2 separate regions of the Homo sapiens genome follow, and region 2 is linked to region 1. A link means that fine-mapping ties the variant in region 1 to the expression of a gene that starts in the linked region. Tissue or cell type: whole blood. Region 1 holds a variant in brackets; the other region holds the start of a gene. All regions are shown on one strand. Distances are from middle to middle.

Region 1 (8,094 bases):
GTTCTGCTCACCATCCCCTCTCCACCCAATTTATGTCCATAATAGGCTACAGCTTCCGTTCATAGAAACATTTCTAGTTTTCTAAAGCTGCATTGTCCCCCACCCCCATCTCAACCGCAAAACTTAAATATCTTATTTTAAAAAGCTACAAAGCCATTAGTAGCCAGCCAATTCATAAACCAGACTTCTAGCCTTCTGATTAAAATCTTAATAAAATTCTGGTAGTTGGATGTTAATCTGGGTTAACAGCCTCAGCAAGAATAAACTGTTTAAACAGGAGTTAGCAAGAACCAATGCACTTATGGACTTGGTTACTATGAAAACCTTATCACCTTATGCATATGTTGTAGCTTATGTGGACTTGTGAGCTATTGAATGTGGCTAAGTTTACTTAGGTGTCCTTTCATGAATATTATCTTCTAGCTTCTTTAAAAAGCAAAAGCAAAACGCCTTTACCTATCAGATTCTCACCCAACCTCTCATGGCGATTCCTTCTCTTTAAAAATCAGACTATCTTCTTTTTTAAAAAAAATTATTTTTATTATTTTTTTCTCTTTCAAAAATTATTTTTATTAATTTAAAAAATCAGACTCTCTTCACTGATCTCAGAATAGACAGACTGAATAACACTGCACGGTTTTTGTGTGCTTCCTTGTTTTTTTTTTTTTTTTAATTTGAGACAGGGTCTCGCTCTGTCACCCAGGCTGGAGTGCAGTGGCACACACATGGCTCACTGCAGCCTCGACTTCCTGGGCCCAAGTGACGCTCCCACCTCAGCCTCCTGAGTAGCTGGGACTATAGGTGCACACCACCACACCGAGCTACCTTAAATTTTTTTTTTTTTTTTTTTTGATAGAGATGGAGTCTCACTATGTTGCCCAAGCTGGTCTCAAACTCCTGGGCTCAAGAGATCCTCCCACCTTGGTATCTCAAAGTGCCAGGATTACAGGTGTAAGCCACCATGCTCAGCCTATGTCCTTTCAAATAAGTTAAAAATATATACATACAATATACACACACACACCTCTACCTGTATATATCCTAATGATGATAAATGACTCCTATCCTATGTTCCCTATTTATGTCCATGAATCTGCAATTTGAGTAATACCTCAAAAAAAAAAATAGACCTTGTCTTCTGCCCTTCCTCCCATCTCATCAGATGATATCAACATTCACATAGAGAATAGTCAGAAGCCAGGAATTATCTTGAACTTCACATTCTCCCTTCTTAATTTTGTATCCCCCAAATTACCATTCTAGTCATTTACAACTCCTAAATATCTCTTGAATCCATCTATTTCTCCATTACCACTGTAGTCTAAGCCATCATCATCTATAAGATTCCTTTGATAGCATCTTTTTTATTTTGAGACAGAGTCTCACTCTGCCATCCAGGCTGGAATGTAGTGGTGCAATCTCGGCTCACTGCAACCTTGGCATCCTGAGTTCAAGCCTCTTCGGTTCAAGCGATTCTCATGCCTCAGCCTCCCGAGTAGCTGCAACTACCAGTGTGCAACACCACGTGTGGCTAATTTTTGTATTTTTAGTAGAGACAGGGTTTCACCATGATGGCCAAGCTGGTCTCGAACTTCCAGCCTCAAGCAATCTGCCTGCCTTGGCTTTCCAAAGTGCTGGGATTACAGGAATGAGACACCATGCCCAGACTCGATAACATCTTAATTGAAATCTTTGTGTCCTCTCTCGGCTCAGTCTGATCTACTCTCCACAAAGCAACCACAATGATTGCAAAAAAAAAAAAAAATTGTAAGAAAACAAATTCTGATAACATCACCTCCCTGCCTAAACCCTTCAATGGTCTCTCATTGCCTTCACAACCAGATCCAGAATCCTAACCATGGCTTAGAACTTAGAACCAGCTACTAGCTATTTCTTCAGCCACATTTGATGCCACTGCTCCTCCTCTCCCTCTCCTTGCTTTAGCCATCTCCAGTGCTCTTGGTTTTTCAGACACTCCATGCTCTTTCTCAACACGAAGTGCTATTTTTTTTTTCTTTTTCTTTTTTTTTTTTTTCGAAATGGAGTCTTGCGCTGTCGCCCAGGCTAGAGTGCAGTGGCACGATCTTGGCTTACTGCAACCTCCGCCTCCCGGGTTCGAGCAATTCTCCTGCTTTGGCCACCCAAGTAGCTGGGATTGCAGGCGTGCACCACCACACCTAAGTTTTGTGTTTTTAGTAGAGACAAGGTTTCACTATGTTGGCCAGGCTCGAACTCCTGATCTCAAATGATCTCCCTGCCTCAGCCTCGTGCCTGTAATCACTCTGGGATTACAGGCGTGAGCCACCACGCCCGGCGGTCAACATGGAGTGCTTTAATCATGACACGTGGGAGATTTTTTTATCCTCATATTCACCTTGGTAAATCCTACTCATATTTGAACTCTTAATATAAGCACTACTTCCTAAGGGAAGTCCTTAAGATTACCCATAGAAGGTACTTTATTAAATATTTGTTGGATAAATGAATGTCTTATTCACAGTGTGCCTCAGCCCCTAGCAAAATGCCTGCCACATAATACATAATATAAATTTGCTGAATTTAGCGTATTGGATACTGATGAACACACAAAGTTGAAAAATATTAATTCTCTTACAGACAATTTAAAATGGATTTTAAATTGCTACAAAATGTATTTATAGGAAGCAAGAGTGCTCCTACCTACAGGAGAAATATTAAGCACCCTGTCAATAAGTAGATGTTTGGATTTCATAAATTATCCCCACACATATAAAAATTTCTTCCTTATTATTCATCATGGATAACTGGTCCTAACAGGACTTACAAGGTCTCTCAAGTCACTTCCTGCTTGCTTAGATTTAAATCACAAAGCTTAAGATTTTTACGAGAGGCAAATACAGGTAACATTAGATTGGCTCCCAAAAGCATATCCTGAAATGTGTCTTGCAAAAACAGGCAACAAGAGAATATATGAAGCTGGCAAAGCTTACTCTTTTCAGCAATTAAACTTACTTTATAATCTAGTTTATCACTGAAATTATACATTCTCTAGATTCTTCACACCTATAGAGCCAACTACTCAGAGGTGTGAACTAGCAAAAAAAATTATTTGGAGTAAGGCTTGTTTCCTATACAGCATTTATTGTGCAGACTATACAGTTTTCCCTGTAACAGTGTTTCATATTCAATATTCATTTACAGGGCATAAATTAACTGTTAACATTACAGCAAATATCTAACAATCCATTAGTACTACAATAACATGTACATTTACCTCATTTCAGTCTAACCACAAAATATGTCAATTTTTTGAAAACACAGGGAGAAGTTTTCTGAATATTGTGGCATTAATCTAGTTCTAACAAAATATGCACTTTATGCTGTGTGCGCATATATACATACAGTTCAGCCATCAAAATTACAGATAGGGTTTGGCATATTGTGGAAAAACTGGGTAAAGCTGACAAAATAAAATAGGCAAGTTGGAGCCTAAAAACAAAACAAAAAACTTCTCTTTGTTTACAGTTGATCCTTGGTATAATCTAAAGACTTCCCCTCAAGCCATTAGTCCTTAGTGTCATTCATGAATTACTCCAATGGCACAGAAGTGGCATGAACGTAACTGCTGGAGAGGCTGGAGGCTGCAATATTTTACCCCAGACCTAAGGCTTTAAATGTCCCATAAAGACTTCAATGACAACAGAATAGAAAAGTAGAAAAGTATTTGGGAATAAATTAGCAAAAACAGCAGGTTAGCACCCCCCTTTTTAGATCACTGATTATTTCTATAATTGTATCCACAGTCCTAATGCTATTAGCCTTTCATTTTACCATGCAGATGTGACAGGAGAAAAGACAAAAAAATAATTCCCACTGCACCTCTCTTTTGAGGGAGAGGATGGTGGTGGGACTGGGAAAAGCCTAGGTGGTGGGACTGGGTAGAGCGGTGGTGGGACTGCTCTTGCCCACCTATGTATGCTCTTACAATCTGGTCCTATTCGTTCTTGCTTCCCTCTATTCACAAAGGCAGCTCCTGACTTAAGGGGCTATTCCTACCCCTAAATACTCCCTCAATACTCCCTGAGTATTTCTACTCAGTTCTCAGCCTCATCATCTCCTACCAGGGTCACACACCACCAATCTTCAGGTCTCCTTCATTTAAGCTCTGCTACTAAGCTGACCACTGCATCTGTTTCAGTAAATTCAACTTAGAGTGGTGATATTAACTTTTGAGACACGTTTTCCCTTAAGATAAAACTTGCAAATGTTCAG[C/A]TTAAATTCAAGAAATACAATATGTTATATTTTAAGAATGTCAGCTGGGCACAGTGGTGCACGCCTATAGTCCCAGGGTATTAGTCCGTTCTCATGCTGCTATGAAGAAATACCCAAGACTGGGTAACTTATAAAGAAAAGAGGTTTAATTGACTCACAGTTTCACATGGATGGGAAGGCCTCAGGAAACTTAGAATCATGGCAGAAGGGGAAGCAAACATGTCCTTCTACACAAGGTGGCAGGAGAGAAGTGCCAAGCAAACAGGGAAAAGTTCCTTATAAAACCATCAGATCTCATGGGAACTCACTCACTTTCACGAGAACGGCATGGGGGTAACCGCCCGCATGATACAATTACCTCCCACCAGCATGATGTGGGGATTATGGGAACTACAATTCAAGATGAGATTTGGGTGGGGACACAGCCAAACCATATCACCTGGCTACTAGAAAGGCTGAGGTAGGAGGATTGCTTGAGCCCAGGAGTTCCAGGCCAGCCTAGGTAACATCTCAAAACTCCATCTCTAGAAGGGGAAAAAGAAGCAAAGAATGAATTGCCTTCTTGGCCAGGCACGGTGACTCACGCTTGTAATCCCAGCACTTTGGAAGGCCGAGGTGGGTGGATCAACTGAGGTCAGGAGTTTAAGACCAGCCTGGGCAACACGGTGAAACCCTATCTCTACTAAAAATACAAAAATCAGCCAGGCGTGGTGACGTGCACCTGTGATCCCAGCTACTCAGGAGGCTGACGCATGATAATTGCTTGAACCTGGGATGCAGAAGTTGCAGAAAGCCAAGATTGCACCACTGTGCTACAGTCTGGGAGACAGAGAGAGACTCTGTCTCCCCCAAAAAAAAAAAAAAAAAAAAAAATTAATTGCCTACTCAAAAGTGGTGAATGAAGACGGGGTGGGTGTGAGGGGGAGGGGGTGGGGGTGGGGGTGGGGGAGCGAGGAGAGTCAATCTCTTTCCCAAAGAGTAAAAGACCAAGTAGTGGTTCAAACTTCTAAGATATATTTTTTTGAAGGATGAAATGATGGGCTTACTAACACTTTCTTCTTACATCTATTAAAGCATATCAGGGGGATGTTCAGAGAAGATGACAATGATCTTCCCAAGATTAGGGCTAACTGACTAATTTTTATCCAGTGAATCCAAGGTATCAGAATACATGATGTTTATATAATTCACAATTCCTAAAAGGTATCTATCTCCATATTAAGGCTATCAACTACTGATACAAAAGCTTTCTCCACTAGTGAGAAAAGCTCATGCACAACTAACCTACATATCCTCTGTCCCAGTAGGGTGTGTGTAACCAGACTGCCTGAGTTCAAATCCTGGCTCTATTTCTTAATTGCTGTGTAACCTTGGGCAAGTTACTTAACTTCTCTTGCTCTAGTTTTCTCCCTACAAATGAGAATAATAATACTATCTACCTAATAAAGTTATTTTGCAGATCAGATAATACATGTGGAAGTCTTAGAACGGTGCCTGACATATAGTAAATCTTGGATTAACCATGATTGCTATTCCTCTTCCGACTTCTTAAAAAGTTGCTAGCTTGAGACTAATGCAATGAAAATAATTTCTCTGGTATGAATTATAGCGAAGTCTTTGGCTTCATTAACAATGTACACTAACAAGCCAATCCTGGGGATACAAATACGAAAGTTTTCAGGGACCAGGTGGGTATCATGAATGTGTGAAGTTAGGTGGCCTAACACAACAGGGAGTGCTAGTCATTGTGGCTAACTGGCAAGTGTAAGTCTCACCTAAAGGCATGTGATTTCAAATGTAAAAAAAATAAAAACCTCCAAATACAAGACGTCTGTGCCTTGAAAGCCAAAAATGTAAGACCCTTGATTTAAACAGAGACAAATGAACTTATTATATAAAAGTTTTGAAAACTGCATTATTGATTCTGCATATCAGTAAAGAAATGATTGATCAGATATATGTGAAATAAATGCAAGGAACAAACAGGAAAGTTTAGAGGTATAATACACAAAGAATCAGACAGACCTGTTTGAATCCTGCCTAAGCTACTTAGAAACTGCATGACCATAAGAAAGTTACTTACTTTTATTTCAGTTTCCTCAACTGCAAAAACGTTAAAACCTGTGTAGGATTGTTGTGAGGATGGCAGATAATGCAGCTGCCCCTCATAAAACAGGCATTGAATTTTTTTTTTTTTGAGACGGAGTCTCACTCTGTCACCCAGGCTGGAGTGCAGTGGCGCGATCTCGGCTCACTGCAAGCCCCACCTCCTGGGTTCACGCCATTCTCCTGCCTCAGCCTCCCGAGTAGCTCGGACTATAGGTGCCTGCCACCACACCTGGCTAATTTTTTTGTATTTTTAGTAGAGACGGGGTTTCACCATGTTAGCCAGGATGGTCTCGATCTCCTGACCTCGTGATCTGCCCGGCTCGGCCTCCCAAAGTGCTGGGATTACAGATGTGAGCCACCGCGCCCGGCCTGAATATATTTTTTAATGACCAATAAAAAAATGTTGGGGCCGGGCATGGTGGCTCATGCCTGTAATCCTAGCACTTTGAGGGGCGGAGGTGGGCAGATAGCTTGAGCTCAGGAGTTCAAGACCATCCTGGACATGGCGAAACCCTGTATCTACATAAAATACAAAAATTGGCCAGGCATAATGGTGCGCGCCTGTAGTCCCAGCTACTCAGGAGGCTGAGGTAGGAGGATCACCTGAGCCCAGGGAGGGTGAGGCTGCAATGAGCCATGACTGTACCACTGCACTCCAGCCTGGACAACAGAGTGAGACCCTGTCGCAAAAATAAATAAATAAACAAACACACACAAAAAGTAAAAAAAAAAAAAACAAAAAAAACCCAAAAACCTAGGTCTGGAACAGATCTTCTTAACCTACGGTTCTTATTATCAGTCAGCTTAGGCTAATTTACCTGCAAAAACGAATGACCCTATAATCTACAGGCTTTATAACAATGGTTTATTTGTTTTGATCACATTATAGGTCTACTGAGGGTAGACAGCAGCTCTGCTCCACGTATCTTCATTCCAGGAACCCAGAATGAAGGAGTGGCCCTTAATGGAACACTGCTGGTATCACTGCAAAGGGAAAAGAGAAATGGAACCACCTAACAGCTCTTAAAGTTTCTGGTCATAAAAGCCAAATAAATTTTTCATTAACATTTTATTGGCTAAAAGAAGTCACGTAGCTGAGCCTGATGATCAGGACAGGGAAGTATGAGCCTCACACTGGGAGGGGCACCAAATATGTGGGGACAATAATCTGGGATTCATAGTGTGTGTGCACAGAAAACTTTTGCATGTAATTTTGAGTAATCTTATTAAACTATATGCAATATTGTATATGCATATAGGCACATTTTCCCTCTCAGATAAAGGAATAAAGATACTATATTCTGCAAAGCATCACAGATCACAGACCAAAAGGGCCAAAGAAAAAGTCAGATTGGGTTTGAAAGAAGTAATATTTCTTTTCTTTTTTTTTTTTTTGAGACAGAGTCTCCCTCTGTTGCCCAGGCTGGAGTGCAGTGGCGTGATCTTGGCTCACTGCAACCTCCGCCGCCTGTGTTCAAGTGATTCTCCTGCCTCAGCCTCCTGAGTAGCTGGGATTACAAGTGTGTGCCACCACTCAGCTAATTTTCGTATTTTTAGTAGAAACGGGGTTTCACCATGTTGGCCAGGCTGGTCTTGAACTCCTGACCTCAAGTGATCCGCATACCTCCCAAAATGCTGGGATTACAGGGGTGAACCACCGCACCTGGCCAGAAGTCGTATTTCAAACATATAGCCATTACTAATTATAATACTAGATCAGTACACTTTAGCTCT
Region 2 (8,106 bases), 590 kb before region 1:
CTGGGATTACGGGGCATGAGCCACCACAATCAGGTCTATCTTATTATTTTTTATTTTTATTTATTTACTTATTTTAATTTTTTTTTTGAGACAGAGTTTTGCTCTTGTTGCCCAGGCTGGAGTCCAATGGCGAGATCTTGGCTCTACACAACCTCTGCCTCCCGGATTCAAGTGATTCTCCTGTCTCAGCCTCCTGAGTAGCTGGGATGATGGCATATGCCACCATGCCCGGCTAATTTTTGTATTTTCAGTAGAGACGGGTTTTCATCATATTGGTCAGGCTGATCTCAAACTCTTGACCTCAGGTGATCTACCCGCCTCGGCCTCCCAAAGTGCTAGGATTACAGGCATAAGCCACCGCGCCTGGCCTTACTTTTTTTTCTTTTTTTTTTTTTAAAGAACTATGACAGCTAGTTACATACTTAGTATTTCTCTCTCTCTCTCCAAATTGTGAGTTCCTTGAAAACTGTGTTATAGCCATAGTATCTAGGACAGAAGCTGGCATGAAATATACTGATTCTTAGTGGTTGGAAAATGGTCTGAGAAGGATTTGAAGTGTGCTGTTATAAGCAAGTGAGTCTGATATGAAATTGGGGTGATTGAGCCCGGGGGTTGAGGCTGCAGTGAGCCAAGATTGTACCACTGCACTCCACACTGGGCAACAGAGCAAGATGCTGTCTCAAAAATAAAAAATAAAAATAAATAAAAGTATTGAATCAGATATGACAAAAAATAAAAAAATAAAACTGGGGGGATTATCTAGGAATTAATGAGAAAATCATAGACTCAGCTTGATCTCATCCTTTGCCAGATGCGAAAACCAAAGCCTGGAGTAGTTGAGGGATTTGTTCAAAGTTATCTAGCTAGTTAATGGCCAGAATCAAGACTAGAATCTCAAAACTCCCATCAAACTAGTCTAGAGGCCAATCCACTATATTGATCTGCCTTTCAGATCTCAGTGATTTGGTATCTATCTCCACTATCCCACTGAAGTTTGCTATTGTTGGTTACCAATCACTTTTCTGTTGCTAAATCCAGTGAATGCTTTCCAGTTCTTGATATACTTGGCCTTTTTGTGGTCTCTGACTCTGTTGACCCCTCTCCATCTTGCTTGCTTGGCTTCAGAGGCATTAGGCTCACCTAGTTCTCCTTTTCTCTCTCTGGCCATTCTTCCTCAGACTTCTTTTTGGGCTTCTGATCATCTGCACCTCCTTTTAAAGTTAGTGCTCTCCAGGGGCCCTATCCTTGCCTCTCCTTATTATGTCTTCTGTATTTTCTCCCTGATTGATCTCATCCATGCCTCGGGCTTAAATTACCAATTATTAATTTATTTCTTCCAAATCTATTTTAACTCAACCTCTTTCCTCATTCATAGACCTGTACAGTTTGAGTGTTTATTGGACATTTTTCTCTAGATGTGGAGGTTCCATCAGGTCACAGTCATATTGCTATAGTCTCTGAGGGGACCTACTGAATTGTACCCTTCTTTTCCAGGTAATGGAGAAAGCTGCAGGAAACCAACTATTATCTTTATTACTGACTGTATCAGTTTCCTATTGCTGTTGTAACAAGTTAGCACAAACTTGGTACCTTAAAACATACAAGTTTCTTATCTCGCAGTTCTAGAAGTCAGAAGTCCTAAAATCAAGGTGTTGGCAGGGCTGTGTTCTTAGGGTGCTAGAGAAGAATCCATTTCCTTGCCTTCTCCCGCATCTACAATTTGCTTGCGTTTCTTGGGTCCATCTTCAAAGCCAACAGTATAGCATCTTCAAATCTCTGTCTGACCTCTGCTTCCATCATCACATCTCCTTCTCTGACTCTGACCCTCCTGCCTCCAGCCCAGTCAGACAATCCAGGATAATCTCCCTAGATACATCATTTAATCATATCTGCAAAGTCCCTTTTGCCACATAATATAACATATTCATGGGTTCTGAGTATTAGGGTGTGGTCATCCTTTTTTTTTTGGTTGGGGGGGATCATTATTCTGTGTAACACAGCTGACAAAGCTGGTATTAAATATTATCTGTGGACAGACAGCTTCCTAATGCCAAACTCTGGAATTAAATACATATACTCTCTTTGTAGCCCTGGACTAGGCACCCTTGTCCCTACCCACAGGCCCTGCTCCAGAAGAAACGGAAAAGAACACCAGGACAGTTCCCTGAAGATAGTTATCTTTTAAGAGAAAAAGAATGGGATAGATGCCACATGTCCAGTTTCTCCCATTTAAGTTCACCAATCAGGAAGTCACTCCTCTAGGCAAGAGTGAGTTGCAGACAGGTATAAGAGAAACCAGGAGAGTATTACACTAATGGATATCATTCCATATGGAAGAAAGACATTGTGAATGGAGAGTAAATGTTTCCCTAACAAACATATCCATATTTGAACTCATCATCATACTCCACATATCTGGTCATCCTCCTAAGAAATGTCACCATCACTATCTATAATAGTAACTTAGACACTTGTGGATAATCAAGACTCATGTAGCTTGCCATCTTGCTAAATGTTACCACTGTCTACCTCAGCACTCATGCTAGAAACCTGGCCTACTCATTTATCCGCACTCAGTGCTGTGAATTCTACCACCTTAATGGCGCTAACATCTATCCCCTCCTCTATTCCCACTGCCAATGCCTTGTTTAATGTTCTTATCACTTGTCTGGAGTACTGCAATGGCCTAAAAATGGGTCTCCCTGCCCCAAGCCTTGCTTTTCCTGACCATTTTCACTTTCTACTTTTACTCATGAAGCTTCCTTTGCCCGGAATTAAGTCCTTCCCAATTTGTCTCCTCCAACAACTGCAAGGGCGGTCCCCTAGCTTGCTCCAGCGTCGGGGATAACTGACTTTCCTACACCAGCTACAGTCAGACCTGCACCCGGATTTCTAGGACTCTTATCTATGTAGATAGATAAATACATTTTTTTGAGACAGTGTCTTGCTCTCACTGCAGAGGCTGGAGTGCAGCGGCGCGATCACGGTTCACTGCAATCTTGAACTCCCCAGGTTCAAGCGATCCTCCCACCTCAGCCCCCCGAGCATTTGTGACTACAGGCGCGCGCCAACATGCCCATTTAGTTTTTGTCTTTTTTGTAGAGACGGGGTTTCACTATGTTACCCAGGCTGGTGTCGAACTCCTGAGCTCAAGCGATCCGCCCACCTCGGCCTCCCAAAGTGCTGGGATTACAGGCTTGAGCCACCAAGTCAAATGGGCTTTATACTTACAAAGTACCTTTGCATACCTTATTTCATTTTCACCTCACAATTCTCCAGCGTAGGCTGGACCGGTATTATTATGCCCATTTACTGAGAGAGGAAACTGAGAGTCAAGGCTGGGCCAGTCACACCCTGCTGCGAAATTAACGAGCATCACTTAGCAGCCTCGACATTAACCGCGCTCGCGCTCTCATCCCTTTCTGGTCCTACTCCTTGGAGAACCTTCCTGCACCTCCAAGAACTTGCCGATCGGGTCTGCGGCGGTCTGGACGAGGTCACTCCACAGGCGCCCAGGACCTTCTCATCCGTAGTGACGTGCGCCGGTGACGCCATACAGTGACGTGTGGTGACTCGACTTACCCGGAGCCAGGTGCCGGCAGGGCAGCCACACCCTGGGGCCCCCTGTTCTGGAGGGGCAGAGGGTCGGGCCGATGCGAAAAAGCCGCGGAAGCTGCCTTAGGCGACTTTCTGGGCCTGCATCGCCGGACCCAGCAGCCCGCTGTCGATCGGTTGCTAAGTGACGCCAGCGCGCAGTGGCGCGTGCGCGGCCACGGCGGAGTGCGTGAAAGCGGACGCGCGCCGCAGCAGCCGGGGCGGCGGCGAGGACGGCGGCCACGGAAGCGGCCAAGGGGGCGGTGGCGCAGAGAGGGGTGCGGAGCGGGCGGAAGAGGCGTCTGTGTCGCAGCTTGGTCTCAGAGGAGCATCGCTGGGGTGAGTAGCCGGGTCCTTGCAGGGGAGGTGGGGCCTGGCCGCACCTGCGGCGCGGGGACGCGCGCCCCCGCCGTATCCGCGCGCACCGCCCCCCGCCCCTCCGCCGCTTTTTCCGGGGGCGGGGGAGGAGCTGGGACGGGGCCTGACGAGGGTCATTTCTTGGGCCCGGGTGCTCTGGGAGAGCGGTAGCCGTCCCGTTCGCAGTCCACGAAGGTGTAGTGGGAAGTAGACGTTTCGGGGATTCGGGGTGGCTCTACCAGCCTCCCAAAGAGAGGAGTTCGAATCAGGGGCAGCCCAGGTTCCCTAGCAGTCTCGTATCCTGTCTGAGACGACGTTGCCTGGGACTGAGGAGGCGAAACCCGGGACCCCGGGGTGGGGGTTTGGAAAGTTTGGGACTGCTGGGGCCCTCATCTCCCCTGCCCTGGCCAGCCTCTGAGTAGGAGCTGGTTGTTATGGAGAGAGTTGTGAATCAGTGCCTGCGTGCGGCATCAGACACACCCACGACCTTGGGAGGGCGACCTGTCAGTATAGATCCGGGGCAGCCAACCTGTTGCCTAGAGTTTCTAACTTCACATGTATGTGCATGTGTTTCCTTGGCGTTTTAGTACATTGTTGTTACAGATTTTGAGACCAAGGTGCTGATAGGCATCCTCATTTCTTACTTCCTCATAGACTTAGTTATCTTGCTATATTTCCCAGAACCGTGTTGTGCTTTTGTCATTAGTAGATCCAAGGAAGTATGGAAGCATGTTTTGTTTGTTTTTCCTAAAGGCAGTACAGGCTGCTATTTTCTGGGCAGAAAATACGGATTCTGTTCACTGTGTGGGCGGAAAGTGTTGATGATGGGAGAACCCAGCATGTAAAGGTGTAGCTCATCCTCAGCCCTGTGCTGTCTTCTCAGTGCTCTGGACTCTATCATGGGTAGATGTATAGGGGTTGTGGTTACCATACTTGGGAGCGAGGAATATTGGAGACAGGGAAGAAGCCAGTCTTTTCTTTCTGTTGATTAAGGCAATTTGTAGAACCAGTGAAAAGATAGGCTGTACTGAAATCTAATGTTTTGTGTAAGAGGATAGAGGAAAATAAGTTCAAGGTTCTCATTTAGGTCTAAAATTCTATGATTCTGTTTCATAACTGAGAATCTGTAAAGTATGTTACCTCTTGGAACCAGTAATAACCTTGCTTTGTAACACTTATTAGATTACTCGGAATTCAAAGTGTCTTCCTCCCTCCACTGTAATAGCTTTTAGGACAGGAGTCATCTGTGTTTTCCTCCTTGCCCTATGTCTAACACATAGGAAAAATGTGCTTGCCACAGAGTAGGCATGCAATGGATATTTGTTATATAGCACACTATGCTCAAGTGGTGTATCTATGTATAGAAAGCATTGAGTTCAGTCCATCAAGTACTTAATACATGTGCCTCCCTCTGCCCAGTATCATGATAGGTGTGGGAGGAGGATTATGGAGTGAAAAATGACATAGAAGACCTGTCTTTTTTTTCCCTTTGAGAGCAGTAGTCTAGCTAGGAGATGTATAAAATAATTATAAAACCAAGTTAAGTAGCAGGTAACCAGTGCTGTTTGAGGACTATAAATGTGGTAGAAAATCAGAAAAGATAGGATGTGTAGGCTGAGTTAGGGAACTCTTTGAAAGAGGCAAGATTTGACTTGGTCTCTGAAAGAAGTTAAAATTTGTTAGGAAATAAACCAGGAGCTGAGAAAATAATAATGTGAATTTGGTTGTTGGAGGATATACCAAGACGACTTTTATGTCTGGTAACTGGAGCGGAACGTCTCTTATAGGGGAATACTGGAGAGAGATGGCTTAGCAGGTTGGGAAGGCAAAGTGTTAAGGATTAAGGCGGGCTTATCAGCATCCCACTGTTAACAAGATACAGCCTTCTTGTAAGGTGGGATAGAGGTTGTATTAATCAGAGTACAGTCTTTGACAAGAATAAGTGTTATCCTTACTTGAAAGTAAAGGATATTACGCTTGAACCAATATCAGGTTGTTAATATACTTTTGATTTCAATTACTAATTGGAATCGATGCCTCACTAATGTGCATGTATTTTAGGTAGTCAGTGGTGCATGTCTCATTATCTAAAATCTACCTGATGTACTTGGGCCATTGTATTGGAAATTTACTGAAATGATGTACCAATAGTCATCCAGTCACACTCAGTGACATAGTTTTGCTTGGGATTATCTCTCTGAGGTTTGTCTTTACTGCTGATCCTGTAAAATATACAAATGTTAGTTGGGAAAGGAGTCTTTCTGATGAACGATGCTTAAAAATACTGACCAAAGAGATTTCAGAATAATTAAAGACCCTGCTGCTGAATATTGAACCCTTGGTCTTTATTTATAACATCTTCTGTTATGTGAAAATTCTTTTGAGTGGTATGTAAACCTGAAGTTGAATTGCTAACCAAGATGTGTAAAGTTACAACTGCAAATGTTGCATTATTTAACAACTCAGCAGATACTTACTGGGTGCTGGCTATGGCGAGACACTTCGTTGGGTGCTGGGAAGACAAAGAAGTTAAGACACAGTATATGCTCAGCATACTAAGTGTTCATCAGAAGAGATAAACCACTAACCATTATGTGCTGTGACAAATTAATCACTTTTGGAATGAATAATGTGCTGGGGGAGTAGAGTGCTTTGGCTGGAGAAAAAACTGATAGGGAACATGTTGAGAAGAAGGGGATGGAGCTTAGCTCTGAGGGTTAAATAAAATTTCGCCACATGTAGAGGTGGAAGAGAGCATTCCAGGGGCCAGCATAAGCAAAGTTGCTGAATATTAAAATTAAATAGCGCTTTTGGAAATATCTTGAGTTGTTTCTTGTGGGCAAGAGAGGGGAGAGGGCTGAACTCATCTCAAGAACCCATTCCTGAGATAATGAACCCATTCCTGCTATAATGGCATTCATCCATTCATGAGGGCCTAATCACTTCTTATTGCATGGGGGAAGTGATGAGGCAGGAAGCTGTTTTTGGAGCCAAATTATGAGGGGGTCTTCCACTTCATCCTAAAAAGTCTAGACTCCTCCCATCCATTGGCAGTGGAGAGCCATAGAAGGTAGAATAATCAGAAAGTTGACAGTTCGTGTGCAGATTGCATTAGAGTAGAGAGGCAGGGAGACTAGAGTGTAGGTGAGAAATGTTGGACAATGGGAATGGATAGATTTTGGAGACATTTTTAGATGTTAAAATCTCTACATTTATGACCAGCTAGAGGTAAGGGAGAGTGAGAAGTCAAAGATAATATGTCTAGTTTGAGCAACTGTTTGCTTATGATGACATTAAGTTAGAAATCACAGGAAGAGGAACAGGTTTGAAGTGGAGAGAAGAAATAATGGCAGTGTTAATTCTGAGGTTTCTGTGGGGAGTTTAAAAAGAGAGATCCACTAAGTAACTGGAAATGCTACTTCAGAGTTTATGAGATGGTTAGGGACAATTGTAATATAGATGTCCGCTGAGGCTGTGGGAGTAGCAACCTTCTAGGAGGCATGTTAGTATAGTAGTTAACTTAGTGGACTTTGGAGTTAGGAAGATGGCAGGTCAAATCTCTGTTATGCTGTTTATTGGTTGGCTGACCTTTGGCAAGTTATTTAACTTCTCTAAGCCTAGGCTTCTTATCTGAATTAAAGAATTGTGGAGATTATACATGTGCACAGTGATTAACACAAAGGTACTATGTGCACAGTGATTAACACAATGCCTGTCTTATAGATGCTTAATATAATAAATGGCAGCTGTTGCTGTTATTGTTAGTAGTAGTTATAGATGTAGAGATAGTAGGAGAGGCCCCAATGCCAGAAAAATGGAGAGTGAGAACTGGAAAAGATGGTGAATGGAACTTTTGGACGTTTAAATCAGTATTTAAACTTGGATCAGTTCTTGTCTTTGTTTTGTGCTGCTATTTCATATTTTATGTTTCATAATGGCAGCACAAAACAAACTAAGACAAGAACTGATCTAAGTTTAATTTATAAAGAACAGTCTGGTTAATTTATAAAGAACAGAAATTTATTTCCTGATAGTTCTGGAGGCTAGGAAGTCCCAGATCAATGTGCCAGTATCTGGTGAGGGCCTTCTTGCTGTGTCATAACATGGCAGAAGGCATCACATGGGTGAGAGAGAGAGGGAAGGGGGCTGAACTGA

The links. PIP is the estimated chance that this variant, and not a neighbour inherited with it, causes the effect.
Region 2: it holds the start of BTBD9, and the variant in region 1 is fine-mapped to the expression of BTBD9 in whole blood (TOPMed, PIP 0.99).

What each region holds. Positions count from the first base shown.
Region 1 is chr6:38,046,976-38,055,069 of GRCh38, reverse strand. All of the region lies in intron 2 of ZFAND3 (zinc finger AN1-type containing 3), which reads right to left. Among named protein-coding and RNA genes, the nearest start is that of ZFAND3, 230 kb to the right of the region's middle. The variant C/A (reference allele first, on the strand shown) is at 4,252.
Region 2 is chr6:38,635,627-38,643,732 of GRCh38, reverse strand. It overlaps BTBD9 (BTB domain containing 9), which reads left to right and starts at 3,804. Exons shown (of 11, transcript NM_001099272.2): 1 at 3,804-3,933. LOC105375044 (a long non-coding RNA gene) reads right to left here and starts at 3,338. Exons shown (of 3, transcript XR_926767.4): 1 at 3,249-3,338. RefSeq lists enhancers at 3,462-3,541, 3,342-3,842 and a silencer at 3,942-4,141.